Homo sapiens: one gene and its partner. The protein of the gene in region 1 interacts with the protein of each later gene in a pairwise test. Each region holds a gene or a part of one and is shown on either strand. Other genes may lie near its edges.

Evidence for each region.
Region 2: the proteins of ZNF697 (region 1) and GDAP1 interact in binary tests that used the Homo sapiens proteins (3 or more experiments, as listed by UniProt).

What each region holds. Positions count from the first base shown.
Region 1 is NC_000001.11:119,645,264-119,653,011, forward strand, and holds the start of ZNF697 (zinc finger protein 697), read right to left. Parts: upstream 3,004-7,748; 5' UTR 2,428-3,003; intron 1-2,427. UniProt on the Homo sapiens protein: RNA-interacting protein with a high number of miRNA targets. Acts as a damage-induced regulator of muscle remodeling by mediating the interferon gamma response in muscle cells.
Region 2 is NC_000008.11:74,360,378-74,367,376, reverse strand, and holds the end of GDAP1 (ganglioside-induced differentiation-associated protein 1), read right to left. Parts: intron 5,494-6,999; coding exon 5,399-5,493; intron 5,114-5,398; coding exon of another isoform or gene 5,003-5,113; exon of another isoform or gene 4,558-5,002; intron 4,439-4,557; coding exon 4,324-4,438; intron 3,393-4,323; coding exon 3,010-3,392; 3' UTR 501-3,009; downstream 1-500. UniProt on the Homo sapiens protein: Regulates the mitochondrial network by promoting mitochondrial fission.

The sequences.
Region 1 (7,748 bases):
TCCCATTTTCTAAAGAAAAGGCAAGATAATTAAGATTTTTTTTATCCTTTCACTCCTTCTTTGATTTATTCATGTTTTCAAATCAAACATCCTTTGGGCACTTGTTAGATATTAACACCTAAAGCAGGTGTCATTGAAATAATACAAATTACCAAGGGGTAAGATTAATTTTGACTGTAAAGTTTGGGAAGAGTTCTGTAAGGGAGCTAATCAGCTGGGCCAGGATATGTACAAAAATAATTAGGGACAGGTACAGGGATGTCCAGCAAGCATGGGGTTCAACCGGACAGTCACGGAGGTAGAAGAATGTCTGTTGCATCTTCAAGGACTGGGGAGCTATTTGCTCGAAGGATGGGTAGGTAAATTGGGGTGGCACAGGTCCAGTAAAGGAGAGGGGTAGGTAGGCACTGAATTGTGAAGAATTTTAAATCCCAAAGTAAGGAGTTACTTTTGTTGATTATATTAACTCTACATAGTGTGTGGTACTGAGAAACCTGTTAAGGGGCAGGTGAAAGAAAAGAAAAAAGAAGTAGAATCTTAGATACAAAGAAAAGCCCATATGGTACTGACATAGGTTCAAGCTCCAGACCTCTTACTGACACTGTAGCTATTTTTTTCTTTCTACATAAGCAGACAAGCTCCTTCTTGCCTTAGTTTATCATCCTTACAACCAACCTTTACCCTTTCTCCTTCCCTTCACAGGACACTAGTAATTAGGCAAAAAATGTAGATTCTGAGGAAATTCAAAGAGTTTTGGTGGGGGAGGGAGAGGAAATGTGATGCAACTCCATGAGCCTTAGTCATGCTGCTGATGTGAGGTCACTATTTACCACTTCAATCCAGCCGCATCAATCCAGCCGGTTCTTCTGTCTGACTAGCATCCATTTACCCCTCTATCCCAGTAGTTCTGAAAAGCCATCTATGTGTTCCTTTGTGTAATGTAAAGGGCAGCCTGACTTCATATTTATGATCTTGTTCAATAGGATGCCATCTTATTCTCTGTTGGGCATGGCTGAACTTTTGACATCAACTTTCCCTTAACAACAACCCCCACTTCCAACACACACACACACACACACACACACACACACACACACACACGGCCAATATGTTCTAACTAGAAATCATCTAAATTCACAGAGCCTCTTCCCTTCACTTCATTATCCTCATGGCCTCATCCTAAACAACTCGGTTTTTTTTCTCGATTCCATTCTTTATCTCAGTTCAAATGCCTCATCTCTCCCAAAGAAGCTAAGGAAGAAATGTTTTGTTTCACCTCGAAAGCCATTTATATCAGGCTCAGGGCTCTCTCCATGTCCTACAGCATCATTCTTTCGACCATGAGCCTTGCATACTCCTGCCTGGCCATATAAGTGGCATTCTTAAAGGTTCATTTGGTTCCTCAAACGTATTCCACATTAAATAATATCCACATGTTGGCTTGTTGAGAGAAGAAGGTAAACAGTTGGGGGCATCAACAAAAAATCAGGTGAGGGGAGAAAGGAGAGATAGTGAGTGTGGCCCCTTAGGCATGCTGAGTTCAGTTACAACAGTCACACTTGGACTGTATTCAAAGTTGCCCACTCATCCACCACAGCTACTCAAAGACATTTAACTCGCTAGCCATTATCCAACCGCATTTACCAGACGCTCAGTCTTGAGGGAGGAGGGTAACGCAGTAGGGGATGCGGAGTATTGGTGTCATCCTACAGGTTAAGGACAAACATGCCCACTACAAGGACAGGGATACATCACCAACTTCAATTCAGCCCAGGGTTCATGTAGTAAGGGGTGGGTGATTCACTCCTGTGGGGGAGGCAGGGCGGGGGCGGTTGGGGGAGGCGGTTAGGAAAAAGGAAAATCGTGGAAAGTCCCAGAGGAAGTGGTAGTCAGTTCCCGATGCATGGCCATAATGTACATTGGCCATAAGGTACACTCAGCGCCTCTGTGTCGCTGCTCCCCCTCAACCTTTTACTCACCCACTCCTCCCAACACGCGCCTCACCCGTGCCTCCATGCACAATCCTGAGCCTCGGCATCCCCGCGAGGTGCAGGTTCCAGCTTTGCCCACCACCCCACCACCTACCTACATGGACACGTGTGGTTGGAATGCCTCCCGGGGCTAGACGGCCACCCCTCTTGGGCTGCGAGCTGCTGCCCATCTCTCCACCCACCCGTCCTTATTGTGTCATTTGCCCGGTCTGATGGCAGCCCCAAAGCCGCTCATTTGAGTGGGCTAGAATGGAGAAGAGAGGAAAAGGGAGGCACACATTTCATTCACTAGGACCCAAGATGACCTGCCGCCTCTCTCCTGCCCTTCTCGGAGCCCCCCACCCTCCCTTAGCCCCAGTGGGGCTGGAGGCACGAACAGACAAGGCAAGGGGAGCGCAGTCCGTCAAGGTCCACAGCTGCACACAAAGCCCTTCACCTTCTCCTTGCCTTCCAAGCTCCTCCCTGGGCTTGGTTTCTCCGAGGGTCTCTGATGCCCCCTTCGGTGGTCGGCGGGACGGTCCTATTCCCTCTTGCATCGCTGTCTCCTCCCTCAAGTCTCAGCCTCCTCCTCCCCGCCCCTCGCCACATACCCCTGAGGGAGCTCAGTCCTGGCTTTGGGGGCGCGAGAGCACCCCATAAGCCCGGGGCCCTGCGCCCCAGGGGAGCGGACAACGGTCCACTTTACGAGGCACAACTTCGCCCAGCCGTTCCGCCACCGCACTCGAACACACACCCCATCCCCGCAGCGGTCGGGTCTGGTCCCGATCAGCCCCATCCCCGGGAGGCGGTTGAGCCCAGCCACAGCCACGCTCCTACCTGCGAGGCGGCTGGCGCGGCGAGGAGCTAGGGCACCGAGCGCCCCGGCCCGAGCCCCGCACCGCAGCGCGTCTGCCCTTGTGCGGCGGCGGCGGCTGCAGCGGCCGCTGGGTGGCCCGCTGGCTGGCTGGTTGGCTGGCTGGCTGGCTGGCTGGCTGGCTGGCTCGCTGGCTGGCTGCCCGGCTGACTCCTCACTGGGGCTTCCTGTAGGGCTGGACAAAGGACATTTCCTGGGAGGAGCGGGAGAATGTTCCCAGCATGCCTCGATTTGTAGTTCCCGGGGACTTCCTGCCACCGCAGCAGCGGGCGCCCTGGAGGTAGCTCGGGCCAGGCTAGGACTCCGGGACAGGAGGAAAGGCGCTCGCTGCTTCTCTAAGCGCTGTGGGGAAGGGAGCGGCCGGCGGGTCTTGCCCCACGCCCCGCCCCGCGGCGCTCAAGGAGCCCGCTGTCCCGGAGCACGCGAGATCCCAGCGCTGCACTCCGAGCTCGCGGCACCGGTTGCGGGCAGCCGGTGGGACGCTGCCGCTGAGCTGTCCCATGGTTCGGGAGGGCTCTGCGGTGGGAGAGGCCTTTTCTTTAAAAACTGGGAAGTTTGTGGTGGGTTCGCTTTTTAAAAATTAATCTAAAAACACAAAATCTATCTTTTAAAATAGATTTTCTTTTTGTCTTTTACGCCGTTGACATCCTGCTGGGGGCCGATTAAAGAACTTGATTGCTCACCAGGAATTCAGGTTCCTTAAGATCTTGGCGCTTCATCTTTAAAACCATACAGAGCTGATTGTTTCCAGATCCCGACCCGGTGACATTCCTCCCTCATTGTTGACCTTGTCCCAAACATCTTTTCAAGAAAAGCAATTAAATTGAGATTGAAAATAAATTACGTAAATTAAATATTAGACGTGAAAACCTGTGTGCTGCTGAATTAGGAAAGTGCTGGACTTTCTGCGTATCTTTCCTTCATTAACCTTTAGGATTCAGCTTCTTGGTCCCATAAAACAGATGTGCTGGCCACTGTATATTGAGTGTGTGTATTTCGGGAGTGGAAGGGTGAGGAGAAGAGGACATTGGCTACAAGAGAGGAACTCTACTTCCAGCCTAGCAAGAGTCTATGATGCCCTGCACATGTTTTTGTCTATTTCTGGGACCACAGACTCAGGACCCTTAGAAAATCAAGGAAGGACCACATAGAGACTAAATGACTAAAAGCTATATTCTCTCCTGGAGCATGAGCAGAAAGTAATAAACTGAACTAGGAAAGGACAAGTTCTAGGATGCTCTAGAATGTGTTTGAAAAGTAATCAGATAGAAAAGTCTCTGGGAGGCCGGGCGCGGTGGCTCACGCCTGTAATCCCAGCACTTTGGGAGGCCGAGGCGGGCGTACTACGAGGTCAGGAGATGGAGACCATCCTGGCTAATACGGTGAAACCCCGTCTCTACTAAAAAAAAAAACACCAAAAATTAGCCGGGCGTGGTGGCGGGCACCTGTAGTCCCAGCTACTCGGGAGGCTGAGGCAGGAGACTGGAATGAACCTGGGAGGCAGACCTTGCAGTGAGCTGAGATCATGTCAGTGCACTCCAGCCTGGGCAACAAAGTGAGACTCCGTCTCAAAAAAAAAAAAGAAAGAAAGAAAGAAAAGTCTCTGGGCTTGGTGGCTCATGCCTGTAATCACAGCACTTTGGGAGGCCGAAGTGGGAGGGTCACTTGAGCCCAGGAGTTCAAGACCAGCCTGGGCAACACAGTGAGACCCTGTTTCTACGAAAAGTAAAATAAAATAAATAGCGGGTGTGGTGGCGCGTACCTGTAGTCCCAGCTACTCGGTCGTTTAAGTGGAAGGGTCGTTTGAGACTGGGAGTTTGAGGCTGCAGTGAACCGTGATTGCACTCCAGCCTGGGTGACAGATTGAGACTCTGTTTCAAAAAATAAGGTCATAATTACGTGTCACTTCCACTTGTCATTTCACATTTTAAATCCATATGATTAAAACATTTGGGTGAAGGGTTTAGCTTACATTTAAGTAAAGTTTATGCTAGAGTTCTCTTTCTCTAGAGATCCTTAACCTCACGGATAAGATGGCCTGGATTAAAATGTAGAATTGATGAGAAGCATGCAGATAGGACTGTTCACCTCCCAAAAGTTCCTGTTGTATGCCCACCCTAAAGGTCCTGCTGTATGCCCACTCTGTTGACTGTCCACCTAAATTAATTGTGCTGTGATCCTTGCATTTTCTGGACCCTACAAATTACTGCTCCTTCATATTCTCAACCTGGTAACATTCCAGTGAAACTAATCTCCCCATCTCCACCCCAAAGAATTGATTATTGTTTTGCAAATCAAGTAGCCTCTAATAGTGTTCAGTCTGAAAAACATGATATACTTGCTTGTAGCATTTAACATATAACATTGCCCATTGAAACTATTTTTTGCCTTGCTTTTAATACAACACACTCTCCTCCTTCTCCTACACTTCTAACTTGAGCTCAGAATAATTGAACTTTCACTCATTATTTCACGCCATTCCAAACCTGTCCCATCCTTTTGTTTCCAATCTCAGTTATTTTGTTACTTCAACAAAGTTTTGTTTAACATTTATTCATGCTAGTCTCCATGTCTGGAGTAGACATGTAACATTCAACAGTAAGATATTTTACTGAGTAACTACCAGCTATGTCTTACCCCCAAGAAGCCCACACTCCAGTTGAAAAGACAGATGTCACAAAATTACTTCACAGTGTTTAAGGGCTATAATGCTGCCTTATACTGGGGTTCGTGTTCTGTAAAAGTGGGGCTCTTTCCATAAGCCTTCTGTTCCAGTGAGTGGCAGGAGTGGACAGGAGTGGCCAGAGGAAGGCTTGGGAGGGAGGAAATACAGACGGTAAAGAAGACATGTAGTATGTGAAATTTGGTTCTGAACAGGGTGGTAGCTGAGAAGGAAGTCGGATCAAAGGACATTCTTCTGTTTGTAGGGGTTTTATTTGTTCGGTTTTTAAGATGAGAGAGCCTTGAGGATGTTTAAATGCTGATGAGAAAAGTCTTGGAGAGAAACAAAGGGTAACAAAGAGGAACGAAAGAGGATAAGGGATTCTTATTCAACAAATACTTGTTGAATTAACTAATTCCTGCAACTTAGTGTTGAAAATGTTGAGATTGAAATGACCAAACTGCATATTCCCAGCTAAGATACGCAGAGTCTGAGACCAGAAGGAAATGGCATTTCTTTCCTCCTTGTCATATGCTCTCTCCTGCCCTTGAGGCCCTCAGGGGAAGGTGACAGACAAGTGAATGAAAGGAGAGAATGGAGGCTTCCTCCACTGTTGAAGATTAAGTCTTTTCCAAGTTGACAATAGGTTGGAAAGGCACACCACAACTTCAGGAAAGTCCAAACTTTCAAGCCTGTGGATTTTCATTTCATCTTTAAACTAAAAAAAATTTTACCCTTGCCCTTTTCTTTTTCTTCTTCACCACTTTGAGGCAAAGTAAATAATGATTCTCATCCTCATCTTTCAGAGAGTTGAGTCTGGACAGATTTGCTTACATTTTTTTAAGCTTTCAAGTATAAAATGGATGGACCTCTGTTGTTTTTCTTAACCTAGCAAGCATCCCTTTCCCTTTTTTTGGTAACAGCACCTTTGAGAAAAAACCCCATTTCCACCCTTAGGTCTTGTGGTTTAGAGAAGGGCAGAGCCCATCTTCACCTCCACTTCATTGGCAGGTAGTGATCAAGACCCGCCAATTAGCCAATTCAGTGTTGTATGAGGGATAAGCTATTAAAGGAAACAAAGCTGAGAAAAGGGGTGTGGGAAGGGATGTATGCATAAGCAAATTTTTATGACTTGTTTGATCATGCCTGAAGCCAAGGTACCCTTAGACTTTTTAGTTACATGAGCCAAAACATTCCCTTCTGGGCTTAAGCTATTTTGGGTTAAGTTCTATCTCTTGCAGCCAAAAGAGTTCTATATAGCTGGAAGTGGGATGCTGTAGTGCAGATCCTTAAATGTAAAATTGGCTGAGTTGAGAAATGGTGAAAGTAGGAAAGATCCCTCTGTGCCAGGCTAGAGAACTGGAAATTCTTGTGATATGGTAGCCAGGAAACTGAGTGAGAGGTCTCAGACCCCAGCATTTCCAGGGTGGAGTTTGAGAGGTCTTGATTGACAAATGTCAGGGTTTTAGAGAGTTTGGTCTACTTATAGTTTTTATAAATGTTCCAAAGAAAAAGCCATGCTAATGTTGAAACTGGCCTATGTAGTAGCAGAGAGGAAAAAATTACAGTGTGATTAAAAGATTCCCCTTCTACCAGTAGCCAGCAAACCCAAATGGTCTGGAGTCAGATATATTGAGCCATGCCACGTTAGAAAACTAAAATCCTCTGCCTCTTACACAGTGACAGCAAAGGCATAAGTAAAAAACTGATAATAGACTGTCTCCTGAGTCTACATCAAACTCCTCCTGCTGTGCTGTTCCTGCCAGAGGAAGGGAAGAATTAACCCCATTTTAATTGGGTGACCATATCATTTCTTATCAAAATGGGACAATTCTGAGTGTGAGTATGGGTGCTATTAATAATTATACCTAGGTGACAGCTCTAAAGCAGGTCACCCTAATTAAAGAGCTATCTACTAGGACACCATCTTGCATCAAAAGGCCACTCCATTAGTCCTCCTCATCTGCAGATAGTTATTTCAAGTTGCCCTAGGCAGAGGCCAAGATGGTGGCTGTTAAACTGAAGACTGTTAAAATGAGTCATCTCTAAGGCTTTTCCTTAAAAGACAGAAACTCCCAGGACAGGGTCTAGAGCGTAGATAGACTCCATACCTCTGAAATACAAGAGAAGGCGGGGGGTGGCTAAAACAATTCGGTCCCAAGAACGGGAATCCTTCTCAATTCCCTTTACAGTTGTGATCATGGAGGAAAATAGTCAACAGGAATCCTTTCTGAGAGTAAAG
Region 2 (6,999 bases), on another chromosome or scaffold:
TCAATTTCTACTTGATTAGAATGGCTAAGCTTACTAAGCTAGAAATGTAGAAGGTAATTTCAATATGAATAATCCATACTCAATAAAAGAGAATTAGCTATGTCAAAAATATACATAAATATGAGTAATACTTGAAACCCAGTAAACATGTAAGAAAACTATTTTGCAAAGATAAGTACTCAGTGTTCATCATTTTCATGCTCTCCCATGGTAGGTGGCTGGCTGCAACAGAGCTATATTAATGAGCAGCATCAATGTTATTCTTTTTTTTTTTTTTTGAGAGATCAGTGTTATTCTTTAGGCCGCTATTCATTTTAACCGTGCATATTTAAATGAAGCAAGAGTCAGCAATTTTGTTATAACGAAAATATGGCATCCTATAGCTAAGTATCTTGAATACCTAACCTCTGCTTATTTTACCCTTTTAACTACCACATGATGCTTTGATTTTAAATGAAAAAAATATATCTGTTTTCCAAAAAAGATTACAAAGTGAGTACTTTGTTTTAGGGTTCATATTTATTTTCCAATTACTTTTATTGATCTTACAGAATAGTGTCTTGGTCTCTCTACTGCATTCAACAACACCAAAAATCTACAACGCTGGTGTCAACAGCAATAATTACTAAAAATTGAGCAAGCAATTTATGACTATCCGCAATTATGGAAAATGGATTCAAAAGGCATCTGCTGCAATAACAATAGTATTTATGTGTGTTAAGACACAAAAAGCCAACATAACTTTAGTACCTCAGGCATTTTTCTAATTGTGATATTTATACAAATTTTGGAAATTGATGAGTACACTGACCAGTCACCGATAATCATGAAAAAGAAAATACACATAAGTGCCTATTTAGCTAATACTGTGTTTAACTCTAGCTTGACATTGTGTGATACTGTAATCCCTTTCAAAGCACTGGAAATCACTCACATTTGCCTCAAGCTTTTTTTTAAAACAGAAGAATAATCTGATGAAGATGCCCTTATTTCAGAAACTGAGGTCATTACTATCTTTGCTTGAAACATTTTAGAAGAGTTGCTGAACAAAAAGAACACTCAATCTTAGTCTACTGGATAAACAGCGACATCTAGTGGTCATTGTATCCCTAAACAAACACCTTAAAAGCACAAACTCAAGTATCCATGAAATATATGAAATTGCCACTATCTTTAACGTATTTCCAAAGAAACTGTACAAGGAAATTATAAACACATTCTAGAAAGATTCCCTATGATTCAGGAATAATATAAATTGAAGGAAAAGTTAACCATGGACTTCTAATTTTTATTCTTAACAACTTTTTCATAGGTAAATATCCTTCAGAGGTTTTTATAAAAATCCAATTCTTATTTCTTCACGACTCAGTTCTTGTTTCTAACAGAGTGACATAAAGAACTCAAACACTATGAACTAATGAATAATAACTTCTATGGCTCTAATGAATACATGGATTGGTATGTCCCAGCAACAGATTCAGACACTCCATATGACAACACACTCATGTGCAAATTTTAAATGTTATAAAAGCTGCTACTCAATTATTGTTTGACTGAGTTTACTCTGGAGGTTTTATTAATTTTTTTGTAAATCGGGAACATATAGTTCATCAAGGTTTTCTAATACAACTAGGTCATGAAATGGAATTACAGCATCAAAATAGAATTAAAAAATCATTTTGCCATCAAAAAGTCATTGTTTCCTAGGTATGACTTTCCTATTAATGATAAAGTTAGTACATTCTTTGGCTACTGTTGTTCACTGGGACCTCGGCACATCATCTCTATGCCTGCTACCCACCAGACACCAGAAATGGCTTCTAAGGCCTTCATGGCCAGCTCCAGGGAAACTGTCTTCCTGTCACCATGAAAGACTTTTTCTGAGCACAAACCATTTGTTGCAGTTCCAAGGTTATTCATGGGACACACCGAGACTGTCCCTTCCACATGAACTGAGGTATCCCCCCCAAATCCCTTAAACATACATCAGTGAATACAGGTATGCATCACTATCTACCCATTTAATTCATCTTCCCTAGATTAACTGCCAAGTGCTAAGACTAGACCTTTCTAACAAGTCTTTGTTGATGATCATAAACAGATGAAAGATCTGGACAACAATTTTTGTGTTTACAGACCAGCCTCCCCAAACGAAGAATGAACATATTTGGTGCTCCCAGATCATCAAAATACCCACTACCCAGCCAATACCTAGACATGCTAGTGATTAGCTGGGACATTCACCTAAATGCCACTTATGTGTATGAAGAGGGCTACAGATGCCACCCTTTCTACCTCCCACTGACTGGACATGACCATCCAGAGGAATGGTATCTCACAGGCACCATCTAAAACAGTAAGGAACCATTACCACTTGGTAATTCAAATTGCGGACCATCTGAAATGGTAAGGAATCATCTTAATATCACTTAAGACTTTTACAGAAATGCTAGGCAGATGTGTTCCAATGAGCATCAAATTTCTAGTATATAAGCACTTAATCTTACTAAAGCAATGTGTGTGATTCATAAGCATTTAAAATTAACACTGAGGTCAAAGTATACATATAAAGCCTGGGGTTCTCTCCAGCCCACTATCCCCAGTGATTCCCTAGTCCTCTCCTAAGAGTTCTCAATTACAGAAGTGTATGTGTGGGCAGTAGCCACAAGTAACTAAATGTGAGGTTTACCAATGAGACAGGCAGCCATGAACGTTGGAGGCACCCGAAGCTTACTTTCTATTGCTCTACCCTATACAGACTTCATTCTCTCATTTTTCCTTCTCTTATCTCTTTGCCTTCCTATTTCTGCCTGGAGCTGGCAGTTGTAGAATAAAGCAATTTTGTGTCCTATTGCTACCTGAACCCCTGTGTTGTGTAACAAAGATGACTTCTGAATTTTAGGAAAAAATACTGCTAACTACTCAATAAGACAGACTCAGAGAGCCACGGGCAATCACAGGGTCTAGCTAAATGCTTGGATGAGCTGCCACGACAAGATCCCAACAAACCTAGAAATAATTTGGTCTGGGTCTAAATGCTAATATCATGCTGCCAAGCCTCTTTCTGAAAAGCATAAAAGCAAAATATCCCACTCCTGCAAGCAAACCAACCACAAGGGTCGTGCCAAGAACTTTTGGGGCCCTTTTCTTGGCCACCCGGAATGCTGTTGGCAGCACTGCAGAGATTAATATATTGTTGACATGTCCTAAAACCTTGTTAAATGTTTTTCTCTTCAAGACACGCTCGTAATAGGTTTCCAAGTTTGGTCGCTTTCCGTTTCCCCAGTTTCTCCTTGCAAACCCCAGGAACTTCAGTCGATGCAATGTGACAGCGAGTGAGACGTCTGCCAGGGTGAAGGATTCACCGCAGAGCCAAGGTTGCTGGCCCTCTTCTAATTAGAGAAAGGGACATAGAGAATTAGAGGCAAGCACTCTACAGACAGACTCCAGCTGGTATCAGTGGTCTCACCCTTAAGGGTGAGTGTGAGTATAGCAAAAGATGAAGGACATTATATATTTATTTTCTTGACAGCCACACTCAGAGAATAATTTCATGCTTTAAAAAAAAAGTCCATGCAAACGTATCCTAGGCCAAAGGAGACTTGCTTGACGTCTGTCAGCCATCCAGGTCCCTATGTAAGATTGCAGCCACTTGAGCTTATCACTTTGTAAAGGACACTAAGGGGTTGGGAGCCTCCAAGCTAGTTAAAAGAAACTTCCTTCTGGTTTATAAAAACAGTTCTGCTTTAGAAAAATCCATAAAGCTGAGTCTGAAACATCACTCAGTGGCTACTGCTCTTAGTCATTTAAAGCAGAAGAGCTTTTGTGACAGGTAACATAGTCTTCAACTCTAGTCGGAGTAGCATAAATGGCCCATGTGTATACACCTATGGCTTAACCCTGAAGCCAGTTCACTGGCATGCTTACCAGCCAGTCTACAGATGCCCACGTGCTGGTCCTTATTACACTTTAGATTGGAGGCTGTCTCCCTGCCTAAGGAAAAAACTAGAGGGAATATTCAAGCAATTACTCAAGTTATTCAACCAAACTAACTACTGTAATTACAAATTTGTAAAACAGGTAAAAATCTCCCAAGCATAATTTAAATTATGCAGAAAAATCCTTCACGTAGATGCAGATTGAGTTACAATTAGACACCTGGGTTTTTCTGGGTGCAATATCATTATTGCTATCATAATTAAAACTGCCTGTGAATAACAACAATGAAAAGCAGATTACAGAACGTTTTTGGTGAGACCTAAGAATGTTCCCATGAATAATACTGATGTTGAAAAGAGAGAAAGAATATAAATGAGAACCTACCTGGGGTTTCTTCATTTCTTCTTTGCAATTCAGTTTCAACCTGATCCAAGACTTTCTCCAACTCATCAAGAATTTTCTTCAAATACTTGACATTGTCATGATCAAGCAGCTTTGACTAATTAACCACCAAAAAAAGAAACCAAACATATTATTTGCACCTTTAAAAAAAATAAATCTAGGTAAAGCAGATACAAACTCTTACAGAGTTCAGCCTATTTTAGACAACGAGAAGAAATAGAAAAACTCAGCAAAAAAAAAAAAAAAAAAAAGAGAGAGAGAGAGCTAAGTTGAAGGGAAATATCCCAGCTGTGAAAATGACCCAGGAGCAGACCCACCACTCACTGGCAGCTCCTATGAGGCCAGATGACCACAGAAGGCAAAGAATGGGAGGGACACGAAGAGCCATCTGCCAAGCCCAACTCAGGAAAAGAATTCTAGCAGCCGTAATTGAAAGAGTAGCTGAAGGGTCAGGGATGAGTAAGAAGTCCGAGTGAAGGAGTTAAACGGCGAGTGGAGAGTCAGTCAAGTGACTGTGAGTGCAGGTGTTTCTTCTGAGGAGCTCGTTTAGCTACGATAGGATAAAGGAAGGTGGGAAGTTGGGGAGGGTTGGGAGTGCTGCTGTTTTCTACACTTTTAATATGAGAGAAGCTTGCAATAGTTGCTGGGCCCGGGGAAGGAATCAACAGAAGGAGAAAGGCTGACCATAAAGCACACTCCTCAGGGGGCAAAGCAAGTCAGGGCGACACATGGAGGGATGTAGGTCTAGCGAGGACTTCCAGTGGTGGAATACCTGAAATGACAGATTCTAGAATATGTTATGAACTTCCTTTGCATTTCATAACTTTTTTGGCAACCAGCATGCTCAATATCTGCTTGTTAAGCACTTGTCATCAAGTTTCAATATCAAGTCTAATAAAAAATTCTTTCTAAAAGGAGAACATAAGCCAAAGGTAACATGTGTACTGGTGAACTGCAATATTTAAAAGAAGATATTCTAGAAATAGTGGTACTTTACAAAAAGTAGAACATTTACTCCGTGCAGTGTATGTCAACTGAGGACAGCTGATTGGCTTACTTTAAGTCGTTTCTGTTTTGCAATGTATGCTTCTTGTAAATCTGGGTTTTCTTCAGCAAGTTTCTTCAGCTCAGACTCTGTGTTTCCAATTTGGCCTGATAATAAAAACATTTTGGAAACAGAAAATTATTTTCTCCCTTCTACACCAGTAACAAGGAGAAGCAGAGAAACTCAATGACAAGAGCATGAGCTCTGGGGCTCATGCCCTGCTTCTCTGCCTTGGGCTTACCCTGTCTATGCCTCAGTTTCCTCACCTTTCAAATGGAACCATAAGAGTATCTGCCGGCTGGGCGCGGTGGCTCACACCTGTAATCCCAGCACTTTGGGAGGCCGAGGCGGGAGGATCAGGAGGTCAAGAGATCGAGACCATCTTGGCCAACGTGGTGAAACCCCGTCTCTACTAAAAATACAAAAATTGTCTGGGCGTGGTGGCGCATGCCTGTCATCCCAGCTACTCGGGAGGCTGAGGCAGGAGAATCACTTGAACTCAGGAAGCAGAGGTTGCAGTGAGCCGAGATGATGCCACTGCACGCCAGCATGGAAACAGAGCGAGACTCCATCCAAAAAAAAAAAGAAAAGAAAAAAACAAAGAATATCTGCCATGAAGACTAAATGAGAAGCTTCATGGGAAGCACTTAGAGCAAGGCCCAGCACTTTACAGTGCTCAGTGCAGGCTTGCTGCTCCGCCTTCCTCTACCTTTCAAGCTTTCTATAATGAACTCCTATATGAAGGGAGGAAAAAGCCTTATTTTTAAAAAATATTAACTATAGGTCATAGAATTATAGTCAAAACTCTTGTTTCAAATACTATAAAGGGTATTTATGAAGAGGAGGAGGAATAAGAGGAAAGAGAAGCAGGAAGAGAGGGCAGTGGAGAAAAAGGAAGAGAAGGGAGAAAAGGGAAGAGATGAAAAGGGAAGGGAGAGGAGAGGAAAAGGAGGGGTATCAAAAAGGAAAAAAAGAATAATAAGAATAATAAAGGTGAGTATCACATAATGGGGAACACATGGTTTCTGGATTTAGAAGATCTGAGTTTGAGTGTTTCTGATCAACATTCCCAAAGTGTGACCACTGCCACAATCCTTTCCCTTCTTATCTCCAATTATCTCTGCTATAAAGCACACCTCCTGCTCCACAGATCATGCACTGACTATTCTCATGACAGGAGGAAGGCAGAAAGCTGGATGTCACAACTCAATCCCAATAAATCTACTATCACTGAACATAGAGACAGAGTAATAGTTAGACACCCTCTAGTCCAGTTTCCTCAAATAACGAAAACAACAATTAAGGACCAGTAACATGAACTCAACTGCCCATAATCCTAGGCAGATCCCAGGTTTTCAGATTCCTAGTCCATCTGTTCATGAGAACATGTTATATTCTTTACTCTTCCATAATCCACTCTTCTGAGTTTTACCCAAGATTGGCCCTCAAAGCCAAGAGCTGATAAATCAGGTCCTATAGACAATAAATGTCCAATTGAGCAAGTGAAGCACAGATTAATCCGACTGGTTCATGGATCGATCCATAACATGCACATCCATGAAGCAAACTCAACAACCCTATTCCCAATCTTCTTTTAGTGACCATGAGACATG